Regions from separate parts of the Homo sapiens genome. Here regions 1, 2 and 4 are each reported to be linked to region 3. Evidence: microRNA targets listed by miRTarBase, many of them from high-throughput screens and not tested one by one. Region 3 holds a microRNA gene; each other region holds the end of a gene's coding sequence.

Evidence for each region. The annotated mature microRNA hsa-miR-7158-3p reads CUGAACUAGAGAUUGGGCCCA and lies in region 3 at 2,203-2,223, shown strand. An mRNA with a match to its seed (bases 2 to 7 or 8) in the 3' UTR can be bound and repressed. Matches are read on the target gene's strand: a 7mer-m8 pairs with bases 2 to 8, a 7mer-A1 pairs with bases 2 to 7 and ends in A, and an 8mer does both.
Region 1: the mRNA of TRIM72 is a reported target of hsa-miR-7158-3p. Seed matches in the 3' UTR shown: 7mer-A1 at 975-981.
Region 2: the mRNA of HARBI1 is a reported target of hsa-miR-7158-3p. Seed matches in the 3' UTR shown: 7mer-A1 at 5,521-5,527.
Region 4: miRTarBase lists PIGG as a target of hsa-miR-7158-3p. Seed matches in the 3' UTR shown: 7mer-A1 at 1,391-1,397.

The regions. Positions count from the first base shown.
Region 1 is chr16:31,224,010-31,231,130 of GRCh38, forward strand. It overlaps TRIM72 (tripartite motif containing 72), which reads left to right. Exons shown (of 7, transcript NM_001008274.4): 7 at 172-7,121. The coding sequence ends at 746. Among named protein-coding and RNA genes, the nearest start is that of PYDC1, 10 kb to the left of the region's middle.
Region 2 is chr11:46,597,686-46,604,806 of GRCh38, forward strand. HARBI1 (harbinger transposase derived 1) reads right to left here. Exons shown (of 3, transcript NM_173811.4): 3 at 5,176-6,224. The coding sequence ends at 5,845. Among named protein-coding and RNA genes, the nearest start is that of AMBRA1, 7.2 kb to the left of the region's middle.
Region 3 is chr2:5,972,510-5,979,630 of GRCh38, forward strand. MIR7158 (microRNA 7158) reads left to right here and starts at 2,153; the gene lies at 2,153-2,223. It overlaps SILC1 (sciatic injury induced lincRNA upregulator of SOX11), which reads left to right. Exons shown (of 2, transcript NR_026832.1): 2 at 1-7,121. RefSeq lists enhancers at 1,720-2,221, 3,101-3,754.
Region 4 is chr4:538,702-545,822 of GRCh38, forward strand. It overlaps PIGG (phosphatidylinositol glycan anchor biosynthesis class G (EMM blood group)), which reads left to right. Exons shown (of 13, transcript NM_001127178.3): 13 at 452-1,499. The coding sequence ends at 668. Among named protein-coding and RNA genes, the nearest start is that of TMEM271, 34 kb to the right of the region's middle.

The DNA.
Region 1 (7,121 bases), not on the chromosome of region 3:
CATCTCACAGCTGGGCAAACTGAAGTTGAGCCAGGTGTGATCTTGTGGCCCAAGCCCAGTGAGCAGAGATGCCAAGAGGATTAGGGGAGAGAAAGCTGGCCTGCAATTGGTTGGGAGAAGACCCCAGCGAGGCAGAAACCTAGGGTTTTCTGACCGTGTTCTCTCTGGCAGCGCTGGAGGAGCTGACCTTTGACCCGAGCTCTGCGCACCCGAGCCTGGTGGTGTCTTCCTCTGGCCGCCGCGTGGAGTGCTCGGAGCAGAAGGCGCCGCCGGCCGGGGAGGACCCGCGCCAGTTCGACAAGGCGGTGGCGGTGGTGGCGCACCAGCAGCTCTCCGAGGGCGAGCACTACTGGGAGGTGGATGTTGGCGACAAGCCGCGCTGGGCGCTGGGCGTGATCGCGGCCGAGGCCCCCCGCCGCGGGCGCCTGCACGCGGTGCCCTCGCAGGGCCTGTGGCTGCTGGGGCTGCGCGAGGGCAAGATCCTGGAGGCACACGTGGAGGCCAAGGAGCCGCGCGCTCTGCGCAGCCCCGAGAGGCGGCCCACGCGCATTGGCCTTTACCTGAGCTTCGGCGACGGCGTCCTCTCCTTCTACGATGCCAGCGACGCCGACGCGCTCGTGCCGCTTTTTGCCTTCCACGAGCGCCTGCCCAGGCCCGTGTACCCCTTCTTCGACGTGTGCTGGCACGACAAGGGCAAGAATGCCCAGCCGCTGCTGCTCGTGGGTCCCGAAGGCGCCGAGGCCTGAGCCGCCGGACGGGTAGTGGAGGGGCGCGGGGGCCTGGGTTGAAGCTTAGGTCTCCTTGGTCGGGTCTGACGGGAGAAGGGTGGGGAGCGGGTTGCCAGGGCCCAGGGGGCTGGGAACTGGGGGATCTCCCAGAATACTGACAAGCGTGGGGTAGGACTGGCTTGGTGGCTCATGCCTGTAATCCCAGCACTTTGGGAGACGGAGGCGGGTGGATCACCTGAGGTCAGGAGTTCAAGACCAGCCTGGCCAACATGGTGAAACTCCTCTCTACTGAAAATACAAAAATGAGCTGGGCGCGGTGGCATACGCCTGTAATCCCAGCTAGTTGGGAGGCTGAGGCAGGATAATTGCTTGAACCCAGGAGGTGGAGGTTGCAGTGAGCAGACATTGCGGCACTGCACTCTAGCCTGGGTGACAAGAGTGAGACTCTGTCTCAAAAAAAAAAAAAAGTGTGGGGGTTGGCATGGCCTGGGGACTGCTGGTGAGGGGTTGGAGTGACGCTGGGGACAAGACCCAGTGGGGTAGGGAGATCTGGAGTCAGGTCAGTGGGGAAATCAGAATTTGGGAACCAGGAGGCCTGAGAATTCCAGGAAGAAACTAAGGTTGAGCGAGGGAGGGACAGGGCCAGGTTGGGGGATTGATGGGAGGAGCTTGAGAACCTGTAGATAAGGGGCTCCTTTTGCCTCACACTCCCCTCCTCCTTAGGCCTTGGGTCCCCCGCTCCAGATTCACCTTACCCAAAAGCCTTCTCCTTAGTTCTCCACCTTAGGCATGCATTAAAATCACCTTTTTAAAGCCCTTAGCCATGACTTGTTAAAGCATAGGGTGCTAAGTTTCTGATTTAGTAGGTTGGACAGGTCAAAAATGCTCATTTCTTTTTTTTATTTCTTTTTTTTTTTTTTTTTTTTTTTTTTGAGACAGAGTCTTGCTCTGTCACTCAAGGCTAGAGTGCAGTGGTGCCATCTCGGCTCACTGCAACCTCTGCCTCCAGGGTTCAAGCAATTCTCATGCCTCAGCCTCCCAAGTAGCTGGGACTACAGACGCCCGCCACCACACCTGGCTATTTATTTTTATTTTTAGTAGGGGTTTCACTATGTTGGCCAAGCTGGTCTCGAACTCCTGACCTCAAGTGATTCACCCGCCTTGGCCTCCCATAGTGCTGGGATTACAGACATGAGCCACTGCACCTGGCTGAAAATGCTCATTTTTTTTTTTTTAATTTAGTTTTTGTAGAAATGGTGTCTCGTTACATTGCCCAGGCTGATCTTGAACTCTTGGCCTCAGGTGATCCTCCTGCCTTGGCCTTCCAAGTGCTGGGATTACAGGTGTGAGCCACCACGCCCTGCCAAAAATGTGCATTTCTAGCAGGTTCCCAGGTGACGCTGCTGGCCACAGGGGCTGACGCTGCGGGAAGCCCTGACCTAGTGCACAACCCATTGGGCTCTTCACTGTCAGTGTAGAGGCATAGGTCCAAAATATGTTTCCCCAGTCAAAAACATGTAAGGTTTGCACCAGGAGTGGAAGGAAACAAACAAACATAAACCAAAGCAAAGACACTTAAGGGCTGGGTACTCATGCCTGTAAACCCAACACTTTGGGAGTTTGAGGCAGGAGGCTCATTTGAGGCCAGGAGTTTGAGACCAGCCTGGGGAACATAGTGAGACCCTGTTGCAACAAAAACCAGAAAAACAACAAAAAGAAGACATTGGAAAATGGCTGGAGCTGATTCTAGGTGAATAAACAACCCTCGACTTAACTTGCTTTGCCTCTGGGATATGTTTATCGAGCGTCTTGAACGTTGAGGAAGCCAGCCAAGAGAAAGAGCCTGATGCCAAGGTCACACTGGTCCCTGCTGCTCATGGGGAAGAGAAGGCCCCCAACTAGATGTCCCAGAACTGGCCGCTCCCCACTTACTTGCTGGTTCACACCTTCTTTGGTTTTAGCGCACAGGGCATTTCTTGGGCTCTGGAGTAACCACTGAGGCCAGAGTGAGAGTCCCTCTTCCCTGGAGGGAGAGGCCTTTGGGGATCCAGACAGGCTTCTCTCCTGAGGGAAGACGCTGGCCTGGGGTCACTCATTTTCACGGGGAGGGTGTGCTGGCGGGATGGGTGGAAGGGCCTGGGGCCCCGGCAGCCCATTGCGGAGGTTTTCTCGGGAGATGGTGGGTATGGGACTAAGGGTGAAAGGGAAGTTGTGAGTTGGGTAAGAAAGGCCTGAGGATCTGGCAGGGGAAGGCGGCACACCTGGGTGTGTCTCCCAGAGGAAGGCCTGTGGAGCCCTGGCTTCAGGAGACAGAAGAGAGGATTAACGGTAGAAGCTCTTTCATGTTAGAAAATAAAACAATATAGCTAAGGGATTATTTGGTTGTAAAATCCAACACCATTAATAAAACTGTTATATTCTGACTCCTTCCTCATTAAATCCACATGAAAAGACATGTGACCTACTGCAAGGCCTCCTAATTGCCCTCCAGCCTTTAATCCTGACTTGGTAATGTTTCCAAAAATGCAAATGTGGTCACGGGACTCAGTTGCTCAAAACTTTCAACAACTCCCTCTTGCCTACAGGATAAAGCCCCCAGTCTTTGGCTTAGCATTTGAGCTGTTCTGCCATTTTTTTTGTTGGTTGGTTTGTTTGTTTTGTTTGAGACAGAGTCTCGCTCTGTCGCCCAGGCTGGAGTGCAGTGGTGTGATCACCGTAACCTCCGCCTCCTAGGTTCAAGGGATTCTCCTGCCTCAGCCTCCCGAGTAGCTGGGATTACAGGTGCCCGCCAGGCTGGTCTCGAACTCCTGACCTCAGGTGATCCACCCATTTTGGCCTCCCAAAGTGCTGGGATTACAGGCTGGCCTTCCAGCTTCATCTGTTTTTAGTTAAAAAACAATTTTTTTTTTTGAGACAAGGTCTTGCTCTGTCGCACAGGCTGGAGTGCAATGGTGTGATTGTGGCTCACTGCAGCCTTGACCTCCTGGGCTCACATGATCCTCCCACTCCAGCCTCCTGAGTAGATAGGATGGCAGGCACCCATCACCATGCCTGACTATTTTTTATTTTTTGTATTTTGGTAGAGATGAGGTCTCACTATGTTGCTCATGCTGGTCTCGAGCTCCTGGCCTCAAGCGATCCTCCCATCTTGGCTTCCCAAAGTGTTGGGATTACAGGTGTGAGCCACTGAGCCCAGCCCAGCTTCATCTTTTATTTTATTATTATTTTTTGAGATGGAGTCTCACCGTGTCACCCAGGTTAGAGTGCAGTGGTGTGATCTTGGCTCACTGCAACCTCTGCCTCCCAGGTTCAAGTGATCCTCCTGCCTCAGCCTCCCGAGTAGCTGGGACTATAGGCAGGTGACACTACGCCTAGCTGATTTTTGTATTTCTAGTGGGGACAGGGGCTTCACTATGTTGGCCAGCCTGGTCTCGAACTCCTGACCTCAGGGGATCCCCCAACTCGGCCTCCCAAAGTACTAGGATTACAGGCTTGAACCGCCGCGCCCAGCCCCAGCTTCATCTTAAAAAGAAAAGTTCTCTGTTTTAATATCTAACAGGGCAAATATTGAAAGATAAAACCACATAACAAAAGCTCTTTGGGATCCTAGTGTTGGGGAAAGGCTGCTGTCCATTGACTGTCACTGAACTCTCTGTCATTGCTCAGGCTAAGGACTGGCCACAGTGAGGGAGGGACCTGTGGTCTCCTGTGTTGCTCCTCACCCTGTAGACTGTGGGCTGTGGGCTGTGTCCAGCCTCACCTTGGATCACCGCCCTGTGCATGTCTACACTCTGGCTATGCTGAACTGAACTGCTGGGGTCTCTGCACCTCCTTTTTTTTTTTTTTTTTTTTGAGATGCAGTCTTGCTCTGTCGCCCAGGCTGGAGTGCAATGGTGCTATCTCAGCTCACTGCAACCTCTGCCTCCCAGGTTCAAGTGATTCTCCTGCCTCAGCCTCCGCAGTAGCTAGGATTACAGGCACCCACCACCACGCCAGGTTAGTTTTTTCATTTTTATTTGTATTTTTAGTAGAGGCGGGGTTTTGCCATGTTGGCCAGGCTGATCTCGAACTCCTGACCTCAAATGATCTGCCCGCCTCAGCCTCCCAAAGTGCTGGGATTACAGGCATGAGCTGTCGGGCCTGGCCCCTGCACTTCTTTTTTAGGAATGTCAGTTCCCTCCCACTTATCCTTCATGGCTCTCCCAAAACACCACCATTTCCTGTCCTCTCTTGACCTTCTAGGCCTCCAGGAAGAATCAGTTACTCTCCTCTCTGGATCGCCCAGCAGCTCCTCCACCATGTGTAGCCCACGGCATTGAATTGTCTACACACAGGCCATGGTGTCTGGAGGGATGGTGGTATCTGAGACCCAAAGCCTCCTTCTGAGGAAATGGGTACTCTGAGAAGCAGATGCCAAGATAGGATTAAATGGGCAGAGATTTTAGGAGGGAAGATGCCCATGTGAGGGAAGATGGGGAGGGCCATCAGACCGTGTCGCAAGTCTGCTGTTCGTGTGGGAGGGAGGGAGGGAAGGCTCTTGTGGCGTCTCCGGCAGCCAGAGCCACCGTCCAAACACTCCTGTGCCTTCCGGGACCCGGGCTGGCTTTAGTCTCCCTGCAGAGCTGAGTAATGTATGCTGCCTTTTGTTGGAATTATATCAGGAAACTTTCTTTCGAAGCTGCCACAGGTTCTTTCTGCGTATAGTTGCCCCAGCTTGAGCTGCATGCATTGAAGGAAATGGCCCATGGCTGACTGAGTGAGGTGGGCTTTGTGGGAAAAGCTGCGTAATCCAGGTGGTCCTTGTCGGGTGGGGCTGCCTGACCCAGGCAGGGTCTCCCTGGGGATGTAGGAAGGTGAAATGTGAACAGAGAAAGGAGTTCCTCCAGCACATGTGTTCTAAAGCACCAGCGTCCCCTCCGTGAGTCCCTCCTCTCCACGGGAACGCTGGAAACCCCCAGAAACTGGCTGCCAAGACATTTCCTGTGTTTCCTGACATCTTTAGGTAGCATAATAGCAAACTTGAACCTGCCAAGGCCATGATAAAACTGCAAGCAAGAACATTTATCGTGGCCAGGTGCAGTGGCTCACGCCTGTAATCCCAGCACTTTTGGAGGTTGAGGCGGGTGAATCACCTGAGGTCAGGAGTTCGAGACCAGTCTGGTCAACATGGTGAAACCCCATCTTTACTAAAAATACAAAAATTAGCCAGGCATGGTGGTGCATGCCTGCAATCCCAGCTACTCAGGAGGCTGAGGCAGGAGAATCACTTGAACCTGGGAGGCAGAGGTTCCGATGAGCTGAGATCGGGCCACTGCATTCCAGTCTGGGTGAGAGAGTTAAAACAGGAATTAAAAGAAATTAAAGAATGTGTAAGCAAAAACTCAGTTGTATGTAAGAAAACCCCATTCACCCTGAGGAAGAGAAAGAGCTAAAGTCCTTTAAAAATTAACTGCCTGTTTTTCTGTGGATAGTGAGCCTTATCTCTCTCCCTTTCCCAGGCATTGTGAAGACCCTGTTTCTCTAGCTGTGCAGCTGCAAGGTCACTAGGCAGATAAACTCAAGTCATAAAACATGTTTTTCCTTGAAAAGTAAAAAATGATGTAATGCATGTCTCAACTGAATAACTGTCTTTGTTTCTTGCTTCTGTAATATGCTTCCCCCTGCACAGATCTCCCCCTGCCCCACAAAATGCTTAAAAGGTAACCGGAGCCGGGCGTGGTGGCTCACGCCTGTAATCCCAGCACTTTGGGAGGCTGAGGCAGGCGGATCATGAGGTCAGGAGATCGAGACCGTCCTGGTTAACATGTTGAAACCCCGTCTCTACTAAAAATACAAAAAATTAGCCGGGCGTGGTGGCAGGCACCTGTAGTCCCAGCTACTTGGGAGGCTGAGGCAGGAGAATGGCCTGAACCCGGGAGGCGGAGCTTGCAGTGAGCCGAGATGGCGCCACTACACTCCAGCCTGGGTGACAGAGCGAGACTCCGCCTCAAAAAAAAAAAAAAAAAAAGGTAACCGGACTCTTTGTTCAGGGCTCAGTCTTTTTGGATGTTAATCTGACCGGGCCAGTGCACCTAACTAAATAATAAATAATAAGTATCCTCCTCAACCTCTTGGTCTCTCTGATTCCTAAATTATCCCACTGCAGAATGAGACTCTGTCTCAAAGGAAAAAAAAGAAAATTTATTGAGACCTTATTATGCGTCAATAGCTCTCTATTCAGAATCTCACTGATCTTCGCAACCCTGGATCTCACAACAACGAGAGCCCCACTAGGTTGCCTCTTTTGTTTTGTTTTGTTTTTTTTTTGAGATGGAGTCTCACTGTCTCCCAGGCTGGAGTGCAGTGGCGTGATCTCGGCTCACTGCAACCTCCGCCCTCTGGGTTCACGCCATT
Region 2 (7,121 bases), not on the chromosome of region 3:
AGGAGACTTGCCTGGAATGAAGGGTGAAGGAGGGAGGGGAGAGAACAGGGAATTGGAGACTGTTCCTTATCTTGGCTCTGGGTTCTGAGAAACATGCCTCTACCACACACTCGGTGGTAGAAATCAGGTTTGACCCTAGCGTGAGATAATTCTGTAATGGTACCGTGAGTCATCTTACTAGGAAGTGCAGGAAGACCAGTCAGGCCTTGAACAGCTGAAATGGTAAGCCAGTTGTCAATTCTGCCATTGCAATTCTGTTCTGTTCTTTTCTAGCCGGTTCTTTTTGTGCTGTGGGGTAATGTATACACTTGATGATGGAATGGTAAAGGTAGTAGTATAGTGACGTAGGAGCAGCCCAGGGAAGGAGAGAGAGCCCAGAACAGCAGGGAACTGCTAGCCGTAGAATGATAGAAGGCTCTCCCTTCTTTGGAATTATTTCTATAAGATAAATCTCCAGTGATGAAATTTATCAATAGATCAAAATGTATGAATATTTTAAGGCTCTAGAATGACAAAGAAATCAGCCCATCTGTAAAAGACAGCATAAAGATTAGAGAAAGTTAACATGTCAACAGAATAATAGATCCTTAATGTTTTGCTGGGCAAACAGGGAGGCCCCTTTTTGAAATTTGCTAATTTATGATTTCAAAGTCTAATCTCCTTTCTCCTGTTCAGTATCCAGAGATCTAATTTCTTCTACTTTACAATCACAAGAGGCCTTCAGTTGTAGTCATTTTTTTTTCTCTTTTTTTTTTTTTGGAGTTTTGCTCTTGTTGCTGGAGTTGCAATGACAGGATCTCAGCTCACTGCAATCTCTGCCTCCCAGGTTTAAGTGATTCTCCTGCCTCAGCCTCCCTAGTAACTGGGATGACAGGCGCCCGCCACCATGCCCAGCTAATTTTTGTACTTTTAGTAGAGACGGGGTTTCACCATGTTGGCCAGGATGGTCTCGATCTCTTGACCTTGTGATCTGCCTACCTCGGCCTCCCAAAGTGCTGGGATTACAGGCGTGAGCCACTGTGCCCAGCCTGTAGTCATGTTAAAAAAAAAGTTTAGGCTGGGCACGGTACTTTATGCCTGTAATCCCTATAATCTCAGAGCGCTTCGAGAGGCCAAGGCAGGAGGATTGCTTGAGGCCAGGAATTCAAGACCAGCCTGAGCAACATAGTCAGACCCTGTCTGTACCAAAAAAAAATTAGCCAGGCATGGTAGTGTACACTTCTAGTCCTAGCTACTTGGGAGGCTGAGGTGGGAGGATCACTTGAGCCCAAGAGTTCAAGGCTGTAATAAGCTACAATCACACCACTGCACTCCAGCCTGGGTGACAGAGTGAGACCCTGTCTCTACAAAAGTTAATTTAAAAAAATTCAGGGCCGGGTGCAGTGGCTCACGCCTGTAATCCCAGCACTTTAAGAGGCCGAGGCGGACGGATCACAAGGTCAGGAGATCGAGACCATCCTGGCCAACATGGTGAAACCCTGTCTCTACTAAAAATACAAAAATAAGCTGGGCACAGTGGCACGTGCCTGTAATCCTAGCTACCCGGGAAGCTGAGGCAGGAGAATAGCTTGAACCAGGGAGGCGGAGGTTGCAGTGAGCCGAGATCGTGCCACTGCACTCCAGCCTGGGTGACAGAGTGAGACTCCATCTCAAAAAAAAAAAAAAAAAAAAAAAAAAAAATTCAGGGCCGGGCACAGGGGCATGCAATCCCAGCACTTTTAGGAGGCCAAGGCAGGCAGATCAATTGAATCCAGGATTTCGAGACCAGGTTGGGCAACTTAGCAAAACCCCATTGCTACAAAAAAAAAAAAAAAGAATTAACTGGGTATGGTGGTGTGTGCCTGTAGTCCCAGCTACTCGGAAGACTGACGTCAGAGGATCACTTGAGCCTGGAAGGTGGAGGCTGCAGTAAGCCGAGATCACTCCACTGTACTGCTCTAGCCTTGGCAACAGAGCAAGACCCTGTCTCAAAAAAAAAAAAAAAAAGGTTTTTTTTAGAACAAGGATTTCTGTGTGATTAAAAAAAAAGTCTATTAATTTTATGTGTTGGGAAACTAGCATGTCCCCAGCCTTCAGCTAGTATTTTTCCTTCCTTTCCACATAATCAACAAAGTCTTAATCCTGAATCTGTGATTTCTCATACCCACAACAATTTTGGAAAATCTTGGCAGGATCTAGAGAGCAAAATGGGCCCTGAGGACATGTGTATGCACAAAAACCCTTTCATTTCTTATTTTCTTGTCCTCCTTCTAACTTCCCCTCCACTGCCAGGGAAAGTAACTACGAAGCTCAGTCTTTGGGCTATTTTCCGTTTGTTTCAGATACAGATAAAATCTTATTATATCTATGATCTGTCTAGCCTCTTTCACCGTTACCCACTTCTTCTATGTCTTCACTACATGACTCCACTAAAATTGTGTCTTGTTTTTTATCCCTAAGTTAGATTAACTTGGTCTAGATCCTTCACAGTCCTAGGATCAGGAAAACAGCTTCATCCCTATTCAGTTAACTTAAACCAAGAATATGTTTATGGTCCCTCTTTTGTATAATCTGGAATTGGTAAATTGGTGATCACCCAATATTGTTTTCCCTTGATATATCCTGAGACCTTACTGCCTTGAAACATCTAAGGGTAAATCTGGAAAACTACTATGCTGGCCAGATGGAGTTATCTATGGGAAAATGAGGCTTACGTAAGACAGACAAAATCCTTGACTCTTTCCCAAAACCATGCCAGAAAAAAGCTATAAATCCACACTAAGGACCACAAAGGGAGCAGCTTTCTCAGACGCTTATAAAAAGCCCCTGTGAGGACACCCTTGGCAATTTGGAAGTACAGACCCTGATCCTTCCCCTCCATCATTTTGGGGAAATAACTAACCAATGACAAAAGAAAAAAAAAAATCCTGGCCTGCAAAACCACAGGTTGAAAGGAGGTTAAAGGTGTAGATCTGAAGAGTTTCCCTGTGGGATTATTAGAAAATAAAATGCTCCCAGGGAAAAACACTGTCAGCCAATGTTCAGCCAGCTCAGCACTTAGATTATCTTTGGTGTGCAAGTAAACAGACTTGAAATTGCTTTTGAAATCTCTCCAAGACTGTCCATCCCACTCAGTCTTTTATGTCACCATCTAGTGAGTTAAGTTGTGAAAAACTCCAATTTTCCTTAAATATAGTTATACAAGGCTAAAATGCAAGGCATTTTCCATGATCACACTTCACCTTGCCACTTATGATACATGTTGGGCAGTAACCCTTTCCTGATGCGATCTACCAAACAGAACCAAAACTTTATGGGGAAAATACCCATCTTAGAAGACTTAAAAAGGAAAGACCTTAAGAATTAAAACATTGCCTTATGAGGGAAACAAGTTGAACTTTACAAAGAAAAAAATGTTAACCGGGCACCTCTGTTGCACAATGAATAGAGTTAATGTTTCTAGCCAACTCTTCGTTGTCCATTCCCACCTCAATGACATCCCTGTGCATATTAAGCACAATCTTCTGCCAAATGGACCCACTCTTTATAGAGCAGGATAATGATGGTGAATAGCATTTGGAGTAGAAATAAAACAGCAGATAATAATCCATAATTGTTTTTAATCTTGAGGATGAGTCACCCTCAATTTATTTCCAAATTTCTTCTGTCATCAGCTGTTCATTTCTTTACTTTGAAAATCACCAGATTAACACTGCCAAAGGCAAGAGGTAGGAAATGATCCAAGAGGACAAGTCAGAGGTATCACATGGTGAGTGGCTGAGAAACTGGAACAAGACAACCCTCAGGAAAGTCTCTTTTTTGTCCCAGCAAAGGCACCAATGTGTGAACCTAATTCACACTTTCATTATTCTAATCAGGTTATTTTTATATCAGTGTAATTTTAGAACAAGACTTGCTAGGGGATTATTTATTTCTTAGGAAATTCTGTCCATCACTCTGCATATCCAAGGTCTAGCACCAGAATTCATTTCAAGCCAAGAAATTATATTCCTATTACCTCTCCTTTGTAATACTTTCACATGCCTTCTTTATTCCCTGAATCTTCCTTTTGTACAACGAATTTCAAAACAGAATGACCAGACTTTCTAACATCACAATTATAAGAAATGTGATCTAGTTGAATGTGAGGTGTCTGAACCTGGGTGAATCTGCATTGCTCATCAATCTCTCTCAGTCCTTAGAACGCCTGTAAAGCATAAGCTTGCTATTTTATCTATATTCGAATTGCCTTTTTTAAGCTGATTGGGTTCTCAAACCCATTTAGCCTCTAACTCCGAGTCAGGGTTGGAAATAGGAAACTGGAGTCCAGATGTTCTCCCTAGGATCTAGGTCCAAGTCACAGTCCAATTATTGCAGACAGGCTAAAGATGGAGGTTTCTGACTGTCTTTAACATCCTCTTAAAAGCACAAAGCTGCAAACTGAGATTAGTAGCCATTTACTAATGTCAGAAGATCATTCCCCAACTGAAATTCTCTCTTCACATTTGCCTCAGATTATGCCTATATAGGCAGCAAAGTAGAAAAACTAAAATACCACCCAAATAATCCAGAACAAGTAAATATTGTTTTCTTTCTTTTTTTTTTTTGAGACAGAGTCTCGCTCGGTTGCCCAGGCTGGAGTGCGATGGCACAATCTCGGCTCGCTGCAACCTCTGCTTCCTGTGTTCAAGTGATTCTCCTGCCTCAGCCTCCTGAGTAGCTGGGATTACAGGCGCGTGCCACCACGCCCGGATAATTTTTGTATTTTTTAGTAGAGACGGGGTTTCACCATGTTGCTCAGGCTTGGTCAGGCTGGTGTCGAACTCCCGACCTCAGGTGATCTGCCCACCTCGGCCTCCCAACGTGCTGGGATTATGGGATTATAGGCGTAAGCCACCACACCCGGCCTATGTAAATACTGTTTTCATCTGAAATCTGCAGATAATTGAAACCAAAAAAGTGTTTTGACTATATGCTGTTTTCCCCTTTACTATGAGTTTTTTTTTTGTTTGTTTGTTTGTTTTTTTGGAGAAAGCCTTGCTCTGTCACTCAGGCTGGAGTGCAGTGGCATGATCTTGGCTCAGTGCAACCTCCGACTCCCAGGTTCAAGCGATTCTCCTGCCTCAGCATCCCGAGTAGCTGGGATTTCAGGCATGTACCACCACGCCCGGCTAATTTTTTTTTTTTTTTTTTTTTGAGACGGAGTTTCGCTCTTCTTGCCTAGGCTGGAGTGCAATGGCACGATCTCGGCTCACCACAACCTCCGCCTCCCTGGTTCAAGTGATTCTCCTGCCTCAGCCTACCGAGTAGCTGGGATTACAGGCACCTGTCACCACGCCCAGCTAATTTTTTTGTATTTTTAGTAGAGACAGGGTCTTGCCATGTTGCCCAGGCTGGTCTTAACTCCTGAACTCAGGTGATCCGCCCGCCTCGGCCTCCCAAAGTGCTGGGATTACAGGCGTGAGCCACCGCACCCGGCCGCTAATTTTTGTATTTTTAGTAGAGACGGGGTTTCACCATGTTGGCCAGGCTGGTCTTGTCTTGAACTCCTGACCTTTACTATGACTTTGTAGGCACAGTCATAAATGTTTGCAACCACTGAGCTTTCAAATTAGTGGTACTCAACCTAGAGTTCACTGGATAGTAGGGAGCCGCTGTCTTGGTTTCAGTTTAATTAATGCATATGCAAATGAATCAAGATATTCTGGCATAGCCCCAACCTTACCAAAACACACATATTAAATGTCAGTTTATGACAAGTATCTGTATACTCAGTCATGCTAGATGATGGAACTGTGTAAAAGGTGATGAGGAGGAAAGTCTGTCACAACTCCTGGGAAGTATCCCTCCTCTCCACCTTCTACATTAGCTAAAATGAGTGAGCATTAGCTCCTGACGAATACGGTCAGCCTCTAAGTCCAGGGACTCCATGTGCTCATACTCCTCTTCCGGGGGCTGTTCCATGGGTCCTGTCATTGGAGAGGACCAAACATCCATCCCATGCTCCAGGGAGATGTTGTGGAGGACACAACAGGCCAAGATGATATGGCTGGATTTCTCTGGTGAGTACTGCAGTGCCCCCTTGGATCCATCCAGGCAGCGGAATCGGGAGCAGAGGGTTCGGAAAGTCTTCTCAATCACACTGTGAGTTGCAGAATGGGCCATGTTATAGCGATATTCTGCTGGAGTTTCAGGAATGTGAAGTGGGGTCATGAGCCAGGTTCGAAGAAAGAAGGAACTGTCACCTGTGGGGAAGGCCCAAATAAATCATAAATGACTATAAGTGGAATAGAAACAGGAAGTGAAATTCAGAAAACATATACTGACAATGGACAAGAAAATACAACAGCCTCTGGCGCCAAAGCACACTAGAAAAACCAAGCGGAAAATGCTATGGTAAAAAGAAATCATGCCAATGCCAGGAGCAGAAAGACACGAGTTCTGGCTGAGAATGTCGTTGGTAAAAATCGACACATAAAAACGCTGGCACCTAAAGGAAGCCAAATATGAAAGAATGTAGGAAGGAGGTGAAGGCACTGGAGGAAATAAAATTCCTGCATTTGGCCGGGCATGGTGACTCACGCCTGTAATGACAGCACTTTGGGAGGCTGAGGCGGGTGGATCACCAACTGAGGCCCGGAGTTCAAGACCAGCCTGACCAACGTGGGAGGCGGAGATTGCAGTGAGCCAAGATCACGCCATTGCACTCCAACCTGGGCGACAAGCGCGAAACTCCATCTCAAATAAAATAAAATTCCTGCATTTTCCTAATTCAGAGATATTGTTATTAATAAAAGGCTTAATAAAACCAAATAAAATCAAATAGCATGCCAATCTTCAAAATCTCTACAGAGCAAGAATGAAACAGGAAAAAAGAGAATTCTGCCAAGAGATCCCAAAACACTTGTGAGGGGAAGTCTTAACTTTACCCTCAAAATTTCAAGTCTAAAAGCACTACCAAGGGATTTCAGGGGATTTCATGGACTACAGTAATTTATTCTCCCAGTGCTAAGAAGAATAAGATAAAAGTCCGAGCACTTATGGCAGAGATCAGAACTCAGGTGTTCTGCCTTCCTATATATCACAATTACTAGAACCATGCCTTTGTAAGAGGAAGAATTTCACATGAACAAAGAGAGCAT
Region 3 (7,121 bases):
ACCTCGGAGATCCTGACTCAGTCTGGGGAAAGGCGCAGATCTTGGGGAGAAAACAACTCTCTAGAAGAGTCTCGCCTTCAGTGAGTGACAAGATCTCTCCTGTCTCTCGGTTCACAATGTTACCCTAACTAATCCATCCTCTGATGTCACCTGCTAACAACTTCCCCTGTGGCATCAAACCAGTAGCCCATTTGCAGCTAGTACAAACACTTCTTTACATTTAAGTTTTGTTTACGAGATTTAGCCTACAATCATAGAGGCTGCCAGCTGGGTTTCAAATGTGTATGTTCCATTGCTAATAGGAAAAACTGCATCTATTAGAAAAATTCTCTCTGGGAGCTGAGCACAGAGGCAGGCCTTGTATTGCAAACATTTGAAAAGCCATAAGCAGGTATTCTGGACTGTGTTTTAGATCACCTGAGAACATTTCTTGAACACTAGTATTTGCTTAGAGTGACAAACCTATTAAGTGGTTCTTTCAGGTAAGTTTGCATCCAAGCAATGTCGTCTGAATCGCAGGAGGAAGTCAGGAGTTGTGTCTGGCTTTCTGGCCATACAAATGGCATATGGGAAAGTCATTGTATATTATTAATATCCTTTGATGTATATTATTATGACTTTCTCACGGTAGTAATGTTGTTGGTTTTTATTAATGTTATTTTTATAGCAATGCTAATATTATGAGCTAAAAGTTTCTGAGCATCTGCTGGGTGCCAAAAATTCTTATAAATGCTTTACATGCATTAGCTCCTAACAACACTTTGAAGTAATTCTTATTGTCCTTACTTGACATATACAGGAATAAAAACCTGACCATTAGACCGAGCGTGGTGGCTCACGCCTGTAATCCCAACACTTTGGGAGGCCGAGGCAGGCGGATCACCTGAGGTCAGGAGTTTGAGACCAGCCTGGCCACCATGGTGAGACCCCGTCTCTACTAAAAACACACAAAAAATTAGCCGGGCGTGGTGGTGGGTACTTGTAATCTCAGCTACCCGGGAGGCTAATGCAGGAGAATCGCTTGAACCCAGGAGGCGGAGGTTGCAGTGAGCCAAGATTGCGCCATTGCACTCCAGCCTGGGCAACAAGAGCAAAACTCTTTCAAATAAACAAACAAAACCTAAGCATTTGAGGGGTTTGGCCTGGGCAGTGGAGCTTGTGAGCTATATGAGCTGGAATCTGAGTCAAGGCTGGGCTGGTGAAAGGAGTTCACTCAAGTTCCCAAGGTATTCTGTCCTCCAGGACTCTGAATCACCTGGGAGGAGAAGGAATTGTGGCGGGCCTAACACCTTTTCTTTCCCAAACACCAAGAGCAGGTTCTTTCTGTTACATCCATTGAGGTCACATTCTTGAAGTGCATTTTGAGGAAGTCATTATTTTCGCTACAGCAGGGACTGATGTATCAGTCTATTAGAATTCAGAAAAAAGTAAGCAAACAAAAAACGTGTTGGAATTATTCTCTTCTAGCATTTTGAAATGTACAATGGTTAATGTTAACTATAGCCACCATGATGTATTGAAGACCAGGTCTTATTCTTTTTATCTAACTGTACATTTGTACCCATTAACCTAATGCTCATAGCATCAAGAAAAGATCAATATTTAAGGTGACAAATATCCCAATTATGCTGATTTGATTATATGAATGTGTTGAATTATCATATGTACTCCCAAAATATGCACATCTAAGATGTATCAATAAAAATAAAGACAAAAATTAAAGCTTTTACAGTAGAAAAAAGGTTTTAGAGAAATTATGATTACTTGATTCACCTAAACTGACAGTCTTGCTTGGAATGAATTACTGCTTTTTGTAACATAGTTTTAGAAGAGAGATTCACATTTAATGTTACTTTGTGCTAAGCACTGTAATCCATGCCTGGGTGCTCACAGCGCTCCTCTGGGACCAGGCATCACCATCTCCTCTGTAAAAGGAAGGTCAGCCTGTTGCCAAGACCACAGGATAAACGGCTTGGCTGATTTAGGAAACCCAGTTGGTCTTATGACAAAACATGCGCATTTGCCCTTCACCAGGTGATTTTTCTGTAGGGTTATCTTCAACAGTCCGACAAAGCTGTGTTCCACCAGCTCAGGCAGGCTGTGACCAGGATCACCAGCCATGTGGCATCAGGAAGAAGGGGCTGTGTGGCCAGGCTCAATCTCTGGTCCTGCAGCCTTCTGCCTTTGGCTTTCTGAAGCGAGCTGAACTAGAGATTGGGCCCAGCTCGGCAGCGCAGTTTCAGGAGAGCCAGGATACAAACCATCCCAGTCTCTGTTCCCACAAAGGAGAAGCTAAACCATTTTTTATTTGCCCATTCTAAGTGCTAAGTGATATGCAACTGCTTCACATAAGCCTTCCAGCCTTCCAGCCGACTCTGCTTTCAGGAGATATCCTTATGTCCCTTTTGCATGGCTTAGGAGAGTGAAGCACGTGAGAATTGAACGAGGGGTCAAGGGTCACATAACACATGAGCACGAAACCGGGACTCTCCTGGGGTATCAGACCCCAAAGCCAGTGGTCTGCGCTTGATCTTTGCTAACGTCCGAGAAGCAATAAGTCCAGGGCTCTTGACACATTATTGTGCATTTTACTTTGGGAGGGACTGTGGGTCCACTCTGCTTTTAACAGGAGGAAATTAAATATTTACATTTGATTCCAGTTTGGCCCCATGACTGTCCGGCTTCTTTCCTGTCAAAGGCCCAAATTCCCTGTTTTAAAGTAGAGGGTGAATTTGTGTAATGAGGATGGATCGGGCACGTGTAGAACACACTCTTTCACCTGCAGATTCACACTCCAAACACAAAGAAATACTGGATCATATATGGTATATTTTAAAAGATGCCATAGGCATACTTAAAAAGCACAACAGAATTCTATTTTCTCACGTCAGAGGGCAGAGTCTTATGAGCTATTGAGAGGAAAACTGTATCTTAGGGGTTGAGAGCCTAACGTCTGCTTGGGGGTGTTTGTGGCCCTGGCAGCTGTTGTGTGCAGTGCACATTAGAACTGAGCAGCTTTATAAAGCCAGGAACAAGGGTAGAGTCCCTGTGTCTCTGAATAGAAATTAGCGATGCTTAGCCTTCTGTACCAAGGAATGCATCACAAAAGCTAATGCTGGGACTGGGCCTGGTGTGGGATAGGAGTCACACAGAGGAGTCAGAACGCCAACTGTGGCTGGTGTAAGGGGCCTCCATTCACACTGTCTTTGCTGTTTGGAAAATCTGAGCAAGAATTTAAGGTAAAAGCTGATGTGGAACAGCTTGCAACCCAAAAGTCTCAAGCCCAGCATAAAAATCATTGCTCCAGTGAAGATGCCTGCAGAGCTCAAGGCATTTCTGAGACTCCATGGGAGAATGATTCCTAAGGAAGGTGTGCCCCCAGCACCTGTGGAGACTCATCACCTTGAGGGCAAACAGACTCTGTAAAAGGAGAATTCACCTCTAAGGAGCTGCAGACAATAGAGGGATTAAAATGGGCCTTTGATCATTCAAAAAGCATTTTAAAGGAAAAAATAAAGTAACATAATCCAAATTCCAACAGGAGACTTGAAAAAGAAGGTAATAACAAAATGGAAAATAAAGTCACTGAAATAAAGCAAGTGAGTTGGACTATGAATGTCTCCTGTCCATTAGCTGTGTCCCCGGCTGCAAGGTCCATGGGGACTGTGCCTCCCTTGACCTTGAATCTCAATGCCTTAGCAAAGTGCCTGGTTCTGGGTAGGTTCACAGTACACATGTACCTCCCAAATGGATGGATTGCCAACTTAAATGTTCATAGGAAGGTGCTATTTTCAGGCACTTCAGGTGTGGACATCGGTGTTGTCAGATCTTTTCTGTTCTAGCCAGGCATTGTGGACATCACCTTACTATGTGAGGGAACAAGCTGCATTGGTGGAGAGGAAACCAGCAGGAGCACAATAGTGACCCATTTCTCTTGTCTTATGCACTGCAGTGGAAATAGCCCAGTGTGCATGGTGGATTTTATTATGGTGCCAGTAGAAAGATAGGGGGTTTCCTCTATGAGCTGGCTGACTTACATGAGCTCATTCTCTGCAGCATTTCTCTAGCCATCTCCTGTCACATCGTTTATTGTGTTCACTAGTCCTGTGCTAACGAGGATCTTTGAAAAATGACTGGTATGGTAATGATCTACGGAACTTACTGTAGATAGCAATTAAATATCGTTAACGGCGGGTTACGCTGACACATTAAAAGGCCTACAGGCTGCGATTTATGAAGACAGCTCTGCTGCCTCCTTTGTATGTGATGCATTTCTCTGGTTTCGGCTTAGGCTGTCTGGTCTCAGAAGGGAATGATTTCCAGGCTTTCCCCATCATCACTCCAGTTGCCAGGCCACCCACAATCACATTAGCAAGCTTTATTGTCCCTATTGCACCTCCTAATGCCCTCAGGGTGCTTGAGGTAGCTTTTATCAAGGTAAGGCCTAGGTCAACATTTTGTTGTGCAGAAAAGGCATCTGCTTTCAGAGGAGAAAATTTAGATACAATATTGAGGTGAATCTTATAAGTGATGTAAGATAATTTGATGACAAGAATTGAGATTATATGCTGAGATCTTACTGTCTTAAACTTTGTTGATTTCTGAAAATAATAGAAATGCAATCCTAGCTAAAGGAAGAGAAGTAGTCTAGCTCACCAGTGGCCAGCAAACTCTGTAAAGAAGTATTGCCTTCATGCAGCAATCTCACCTAATATGAGACTCCAGATAGAAGATAGCTCCTGAGAAGTCAAAACACAAACCAATATCATGTAAATTACTCTCACGTGAAAAATAGACAAGAGATAACCAACCCAGTCCCAACCGTCTCACACCCCCACTGGCCTCCTGCACTCATGGATGCCACATTCTTCAACATTTGTACTTCTGTTAACAGAGTTAAAGTAGAGCAAACATAGGCTCTTTTACCAAGAGCGTATGGACTAAATACAGATGCAATGCTAATAACCACATGGGAAAAACAAGATCCTGAGACACTGTTATGTTTTTCTCCCTCTTTTGTGGCCAAGAGTGTGTGCTCTCTTGCCTTTGTAGATTTTGCTCACGTTTTTGGGTGATAGGACCAAAAGCAGTAGTGTCTAGGCCACTAGGAGACAAGGCAAACCATTATCTGTGAAAGCCTGGGTTTTCTGAGAGGAAGCATGCTGGACACTGCCAGTAGAGGGAGAAGTCATGGTGTGAAGTTTTCCATGATGAGAGATAAGGACAGCTAGGGCATGGGGATGCAGAGGATGTTCTTGTTGTTGATGGTGTTGTGGAGGTTGTACCCCAAGTCTCTGGGATAAGACAGCCCCATGCACATAGAGGTCATGAAAAATGTGAGGACCCTGGACACTGAGTGTCACGGCTTTGGGGACAGTGATGACATGTCCCTGTGTCCAAACAGCTCAGTCAGCTTATCTAAAAGGGATGGAGAGTACTTCTGTGGGAACAGTTGGAGCTGAAGAACAGAGAACATTTCCTTTGATGTTTGGACTCTACGGAATCTTTGGGAATTGTGTTCAAGTCCAGGAGGAATGGCTGAAAACATGATTGAGATAAATTTGCAGCCAGGAGGTTGAAGACAAATTAGGATCTGATTTTATTCAACTGGGAGTAACCATGGCCAAGCATAATTCTTCTGGTGGATTCTGAAGTTATTTGGAATTTGCCCATAAGATGAATTTTCCTGAAGAAGGAAGGATGTGGAGGCTGATACTGAGGCCCCATTTCCACATGTGAACTTCTAAGAAACCACAGCTTTCATCCAGAGTGGAGATGAATGGCACTGGGGTCCACGTTGCCAGAATGCCTGGGGACAAGGAATGAGGACTTGTCACCCAAGGCACGAGATCCATAGTGGCTACGGGAATGAAGCCACTGCCTTTGTGGAAATGACTAATTCACCCAAATCCAAGGTGTTTTCCACAACTGAGAGGCCTGGGCTGAGGATAGAGATTTGAGCCTTAACTGAGACATCCTACTGGGAAGTTGCATCAGTGGTCAGTATCTGAGGCCACAGAAAATGTCACATGATGGTGTGTCACAGGGCTCCACATTTAGGACATTTGTGTACTCAAAGAGAATCTTTGACGACCATGACTCAGAGAAATTTTTAATGACTTAAAACAGGTTTTGGATCATGTTGATGATGACAGATGGTGCAAGCCACCTACCTAAATCCCTCTGGGGAGGGGTGGTATTTCTGCATTGTTCTCAGAGCAGAAATGTGACATGGATGTGGAGGCTCTGGACAGTGAGATGTGAAGCTGGAGGCATGGCTTGGCCTCCCTAGAATGGGTGTGGCCAGGGCAAAGCTGGGACATCCTCAACCCAAAGGTTTGCATAACTGGATTTGAACTCCTTATAGATATTCCTAAACAGTGGTGATACGGAAGGGAGAGGAGGAGGAAAAAAGGATGGCTCTTCATCAAGAGCAAAAGCAAGAGATTCAGATAGGAGATTTCACTTGGCTTTTCTAGTCTTGGGTGGGGACCCATTATGGAAGTGAAGAGCTCTGGAATCTTCCAGAGAAACAAGCATGGGTATCCTTTAACAGGTCCCAGATAGCCAGTTACCGCAGAACAATGTCCTGTTACCAGAAGCTTATTGCAGACCTTGTAACCTGAATCATTGTGTTGGCCCAGGGCACACCCAGGAGGGTGGCTTGGGAAGGAGATTCCAGGCTGAGGTAAATACCGACATCTGATTTCCTGACATTGAGTAGGAAAGCATTTCAGAGACAAGCTCCAAGAGCTTTGGAAAGGGGAACATTCACCCACTTCCCACAATTTATAAGGGGGCTGGCAGTGGTTGTTTTGGGGAGGATAATAATGGGAAAAGAGAACGGGGTATGTTATGGCACACAGAACCAAAAATGAAGATTCCTAAGTAGTAATCTATTAGTGAGGGAATTCTTGGGCAATTTCAAAAAACTCAAAACGTGTTACAGAGAGGAGCCCCTTGGACTTTGTAGGAGACTCGTTTGTCTATCTGGCCCCAAGGCCCAGAAGTAGCTGACAAAGAGACCCAGTTGTCCCCTGGATGCCAAACTTGGGGAGAGAATGGTCCTGGGTGGCAGCCCCTCCCCATCCAGCCTCAGTCAGAGCTCTCCAGCAAGTCAG
Region 4 (7,121 bases), not on the chromosome of region 3:
CCACATCCAGATTTCTGTAGGGGGGGCTCCAGAGTGGCACTTCCAGCACATACTGTAGGTGATTTTTACATACAGTCAAGTTTCAGAAGCATTTCTGGAGAGCTCAAGGTGTGTGTGGGGGGGGACATGGTGGCCCTCACCCATCCTTCTGTTTGCTTCATTTTTCTTCATGAATTTGTCTCTTCCTGACATGTTACATATCTGGTTTCTCCTGCCTCCTTCACTAGAACACAGCCTCCAAGGGGGCAGGTTGGGTTTTCCCGTCTCCAGCGCATCTGGAGAGGCACCTGTCCCAGCACCATAGTGACTGGATGTGTGTGCAGAAGAAGGAACGCGGTGCCCTCTACTCCAAGGGCAAGAGCTACTGGAGTCTTTTTGAAAATAAAAGTGTTGTTACATGTGTGATATGTAAGTGGCATGTGCTAATACACATTTTCTTTCTTATTAACAGTGGTTCAGCACTGAGTCATGCTTGCTTCTGCTACGCACTGATTTGTTCTATTCCAGTTTTCACGTACATCGTTTTGGTGACATCTCTGCGTTATCATTTATTTATATGGAGTGTATTTTCTCCAAAACTTCTCTACGAGGGAATGCACCTGCTCATTACAGCTGCTGTCTGTGTATTCTTCACGGCAATGGATCAAACCAGACTCACACAGTCTTAGACTAAGCTGAACACTGGAAAAATAATACATGCTTAAAGTCTGCTGTTATTCTAAAATGAAAGATATGAATTCAACAAAGTTGATGGATAACTTTCTTTGACTGCTCTACCTGAATTTAGACTAAGCAGTAAATAGTTTAATAAAAGATCACTTTAATATACAGTTTGTATCATATTTTCCCCCATTGACAATCACTCTAGAAGCTTCTGAACTTTTAATTTCCTCTGAATAAGCTATGGTGTGACCCAAATATGTGTGTTTAAATCAATGAATGAAAAGGTTCTGGACTTTGTTAGAGTCCAGGAGCTCTGTGGGAGGAGGCACCCAGATTACCTTAGGGAGCACAGAGCTCTTAGAATCCTACAAACCACTGAGGGCCCCAAGGCGCTTTGGTTTATGAGGGTTACATGTATCAGTGTTTATGGCATTTGAGATGAAAACTAAGATAAAAAAGTATTCATTTATAAGGAATCTATTGCATATTAATGAAACACTTGAAGGAAAAGTAACTATATTTTCCAAAACAAAAAAATTCAGTGAGACCCAGCACTTTGGGAGGCCAGAGTGGGGGTATCACTTGAGCCCAGGTGTTTGAGATCAGCCTGGGAAACATAGTGAGACCCTCATCTCTCCAAAAACTTCAAAAAATTAGCTGGGCGTGATGGCACACACCTGTGGTCCCAGCTACTCAGGTGGCTGAGGAAAGAGTATTGTTTCAGCCGAGTTCAAGGCTGCAGTGAGCCATGATTGTACCACTGTACTCCAGCCAGGACAACAGAGTGAGACTCTTGTCTTTAAAATGAAAAAATAAATGTTTAATGAGAAAAGTGATAATGTTTTACATTTTTACAAACCTCTTTAATGCCTGGCCTAATTGAAGCTAGTTGGATTTTGTGTTTGACCTGTTGTGATATGTGTGTTTGGTTACAATATAAGAAGAAAATCGGCTGGGCAGAGTGGCTCACACCTGTAATCTCAGCACTTTGGGAGGCTGAGGCGGGGGCAGATCACCTGAGGTCAGGAGTTCAAGACCAGCCTGGCCAACATGGTGAAACCCTGTCTCTACAAAAATACAAAAATTAGCCAGGCATGATGACAGGTGCCTGTAATCCCAGCTACTTGGGAGGCTGAGGTGGAAGAATCGCTTGAACCAGGGAGGCAGAGGTTGCAGTGAGACAAGATTGTGCCATTGCACTCCAGCCTGGGTGACAGAGTGAGACTCCATCTCAAAAAATAATAATTATTATATATATATGAAGAAAATCCAGCCTCAGATCAGTAGTTGGAAAGAGGAGGCATATTTTAATGTCCTTTTTCTGATTATTGTGGATGTTCTTTTTTGATACCAACACCAAATCTTTTTTGATGCCAACACCAAAACTCAACAAATGTTAGTTTGCTGAAGGTTAGTTGGACAAAAAGAAAAGAAACGAGTGCATATAAAAACTGGTGAAATGCTACTGAGGGCTGTATTCGAATTAATAGAATTGTGCCCACATCATTTTCCTGGTATTTATCTGGTTGTGTAAGATACCATCATTGGGGGGAGGTGGGTGAAGGATATGTAGAACTCTCTATACTATTTTTGCAACTTCTTGTGAGTCTTCAACTATTTCAAAACAAAAGTTATTTTGAAAAAGAAAAGGTTAGCTGCCATGTGGAATCTGAAATCATATCAATGAACTTTCATGTCCTGATGCATTACGACACATTGACCTGTCTTGCACCCTGAATGGAACTTTTACCCAGATGTGATTCTTAACATCTGCATTGTTGTTTGGAAAATAACAGTTCACTGGATGATAGAAATTTCCAAATGTTGTTCATTATTCCATACCAAAATCACTTATTTATATCACAACCGAGCTCATCAGAAAAGTCTTTAAAGAGTGAATGGTGGCTCACGCTTGTAATCCCAGCACTTTGGGAGGTTGGGGAAGCAGGAGGATCGCTTGAAGCCTGGAGTTTGTGACCAGCCTGGGCAATGTAGTGAGACCCCATCTCTAAAAAAAAAATTTGAAAATTAGCCAGGTGTAGTGGTATGTGCCTGTAGTCCCAACTACTCAGGAGGCTGAGGCAGGAGGACCACTTGAGCCCAAGAGTTCAAGGCTGCAGTGAGTTAGGATTGCACCGTTGCACTCCAGCCTGGGCAACAGAGCCAGGGCCCATCTCTAAAAAAATAAAAATGTGAAGAAAAAAAATCTCACCATCCAGAAGAAACAGTCACTAACAGTTAGTGAATACAGTTCACTAAATGGAAGAAGCAGGGAGGATGCATAGATGCATACATGAAAATCATACTATATATTTATAAATATTTTATATAAATATATATACAAATAATATATAAATATATATACAGATAATATTTATATAAATATATATGCAAATATATAAATATGTTCATGCAAATAATATTTTATATAAATATATGCAAATAATATTTTGTATAAATATGTATGCAAATAATATTTTATATAAATATATATGCAAATATTTTATATAAATATATGCAAATAATATTTTATATAAATATATTTATGCAAATATTTATATAAATGTATATACAAATAATATATAAATATATATTTATGCAAATATTTATATAAATATTTATACAAATAATATTTTATATAAATATATATTTATACAAATTATATATAAATATTATATATAACTTTTTAATCCAAAGTAGTTATATAAGTTTTTAATTTAACAGGAAAAGTGAAACCAAAGAAAAGGCTGAATTTTGAATAAATGTTTCTTCACTACAAGAAATATACAATATTCTTTTAAAATTAATTTCTTATAACATCTATTAAGAGAGCTGGTAGCTAACAGAGAAAGGGCAGCTTCTCAGGCAGAGGATACACAAAGCCTTGTTTCAATTGGAAGGCTGATTGTCCACATCAAAGAGTTTCTGCCTCTTCATATCTGTAACTATGGAATATTGATAGGACAATGCAATGACAAGATTGATACTGTTTTAAAGTATTGTTTATGCTATACTTTAATTCATTTATCCTCAGTGGAGCCCTGTGACCAAGTGGATTTTTTTTGTAACACCAATAACTTGATCAACTTTGACAATACAATCAAAAGATGTTTGGAGGGGAAAACACTAGAGGGATCATTACATGGTAAAGTGATTTTTCATCCATTCGGCCACTCTATGTCTTTTGATTGGAAAGTTCAATCCATTTACATTCATTATTATTTATAAGTAAGGATTTACTCCTGCCATATTACTTGTTTTCTGGTTGTTTTGTGGCCTTCTTTCTTGCCTTCCTGTCTTCCTTTAGTGAAGGTGATTTTCTCTGGTGATATTATTTAGTTTCTCACTTTTTATTTTTTGTGTATCCATTGTATGTTTTCTGGTTTGAGGCTACCATGAGGCTTGCAGATACTATCTTATAACCCATTATTTTAAGCTGGTCACAAGTTAGCACTGTTTGCATAAACACACAAAAAGACAACAATAAAAAACTCTAGTTTTTATTAGTCCCCTTAACGAAATTAGAAAACACCAAGCAGAAATTCTGGAGCTGCCTTTGTCCCCCTTAACTTTGTCCCCCTGCTTTTTAGCTTTTTGTTGTTTCTATTTATATGTTAATTGTACTGTCTATGTCTTGAAAAATTATTTTTTATTGGTTCATTGTTTAGTCTTTCTGCTTAGGATAAGGGTATTACACACCACAGTGGGAGTGTTATGATATTCTGTGTTTTTCTATGTACTTACTATCACCAGTGAGTTTTGTACCTTCAAAGTGATTACTTATTGCTTATTGACACCCTTTTCTTTCTGACTGAAATAGTCCCTTCAGCATTTCTTATAGTACAGGTCTAGTGTTGATGAAATCCCTCAGCTTTTGTCGGGGAAAGTTTATTTTTCCTCCATGTTTGAAGGATATTTTCACCAGATATACTATTCTAGGGTAAAACTTTTTTTCTTTCAGCACTTTAAGTATGTCATGCCACTCTCCTGGTCTGTAAGGTTTCCACTGAAAAGTCTGCTACCAGACATATTGGAGTTCCATTATAGGATATTTGTTTATTTTGTCTTGCTGCTTTTAGGATGCTTTCTTTATCCTTGATCTTTGGGAGTTTGATTATTAAATGCCTTGAGGTAGTCTTCTTTGGATTAAATCTGCTTGGTGTTCTATAGCCTGCTGGTACTTGGATATTGATATATTTCTCCATGTTTGGGAAGTTCTCTGTTATTATCCCTTTGAATAAACTTTCTGCCCCTGTCTGTACCTCCTCTTAAAGGCCAATAACTCTTAGATTTGCCCATTTGAGGCTATTTTCTAGACCCTGTAGACATGCTTCATTTTTTTTTATTCTTTTTTCTTTTGTCTCCCCTGACCGTGTATTTTCAAATAGCATGTCTTCAAGTTTATTAATTCTTCCTTCTTCTTGATCAGGTCTGTTATTAAAGGACTCTGATGCATTCTTCAGTATGCCAGTTGCATTTTTGAGCTCCAGAGTCTCTGCTTGAATCTTTTTAATTATTTCAATCTCTATGTTAAATTGATCTGATAGAATGCTGAATTCCTTCTCTGTGTCATCTTAAATTCATTGAGTTTCCTCAGCTATTTTGAATTCTTTGTCGGGAAGGTGACATATCTCGTTTCTCCATGATTGCTTCCTGGTGCCTTATTTAGGTCGTTTGGTGAGGTCCTGTTTTCCTGGATGGTATTGATGCTAGTAAAGACCACAGTTACTTTTGCACTAACCACAGTTACTTTTGTACTAACCTAGTAAAGACCACAGTTACTTTTGCACTAACCTAGTAGATGTTCTTCAGTGTCTGGCCATTGAAGAGGTAGACATTTATTATAGTCTTCACTGTCTGAGCTTGTTTGTACCCCTCCTTTGGAAGGCTTCCAGGTATCTGAAAGGACTTGGTGTTGTGATCTATGCTCTATCTGCCTTAGGGAGCACCCCAAGCCCAGTAACACTGTGCACCACCTTGATGGTCTTGAATAAGATCCAGGAGAACTCTCTGGATTACCCGGCAGAAGCTCTTGTTTTCTTCCCTTACTTTCTTCCAAACAAATGGAGTCTCTCTGTCCTGAGCCACCTAAAGCTGGGGTGGAGTGACACAAGCACCCCTGTGGCCACATCACTGACGGCACTGGGTCAGACCTGAAGGCAGCACAGCACTGGGTCTGTAACCACTCCCTGGCTGCTGCCTATGTTCACTCAACACCCTGGGGCTCTGCCATCTGCTGTTGGCAAAGCCAGCCAGGCCTGTGTCTTTCTCCTCAGGGTAGCGAGTTCCCCCAGACCCTGGATGGTCCAGAGGTGCTGTCAGGAACTAGGGTCAAAAACCTTGGAAGCCTACCTGGTGTTCTATTGTACTCAAGCTGTGCTGGCACTGAACCACAAGACACAGTTCTCCCCCACTCTTTCCTCCCCTTTCCAAAAGCAGGGGAGCCTCACCCCTTAGCCACCACCACCACGGGCCCTGGGGAGTACCGCCGGACCACCACTCACGTTCCCTTAAGGCCTGAGGGCTCTTCAGTCAGTTTGTGGTGAACGCTGCCTGGCCTGGGACTCACCCTTCAAGGCAGGGGGCTCCATTCTGGCCCAGGGCAGGTCCAGAGATGCCATCCAAGAGTCAAGTTCTGGAACTGGGGACCCCGAGAGCCCACCTGGTGCTCTGCCCCTCTGTGGTGATGCTGGTACCTAAAGGACAAGACAAGGTCCTCTGCTTTTCCCTCCACTTTTCGCAAGCAGAAGGAGCTTCGCCCTGCAGCACAGGTGGGAATGTGCCAAGTCTCACCTGAAGCCAGCAATTCTCAGAGGCTCACCAAGGCCCTCAATGTAGTACCTGGGTGTCGCTGCTGGTTATTCAGGGCCCAAGAGCTCTTCAGTTAGCAGGTGATGAATGCTTCCAGGACTGGGTCTTTCCCTTAAATGAAATGGGTTCCCTTCTCACCCAGGGTGTGTCTAGAAATGTCATCCAGGAGCTAGGTCCTAGAACAGGGCCTCACAAATCTGACCGGTGCCCTGTCCTGCTGTGGCTGAGCTGGTATCCGAGATGCCAGACAACGTCCTCCCCACTCTTCCCTCTTCTCTCATCAAGCAGAAGGAAGGAGGCTCTTTTGGAGCTTCGAGCTCTGCAGCCTGGGATTAGGGGAGGGGTGAGGCCAGCACTTCCTTGGCTACCCCAGCTGGTTTCTCCATAAGTTGCATGCCCCTTCAGTCCACTATCTGTGGGCCCAGTTCAGCACTAAGACTCACCTATGAGTTGCAGTACTTATGGCCTAGACTGCCTTTCAAATTTCTTTACAGACCTAGAGCACCTTAGCTCTTGTTGCTAAAGGTTTGCAGGAACTCAAGTTCCCCACCACTGTGATCAGCGATCCCCTCTGTCTAGGCATGGCTTAAATGCTCCCTCGGTGGGCAGGTGTCAGCTGAGCTTGGTCTGGCACTGAGTTCTATGTC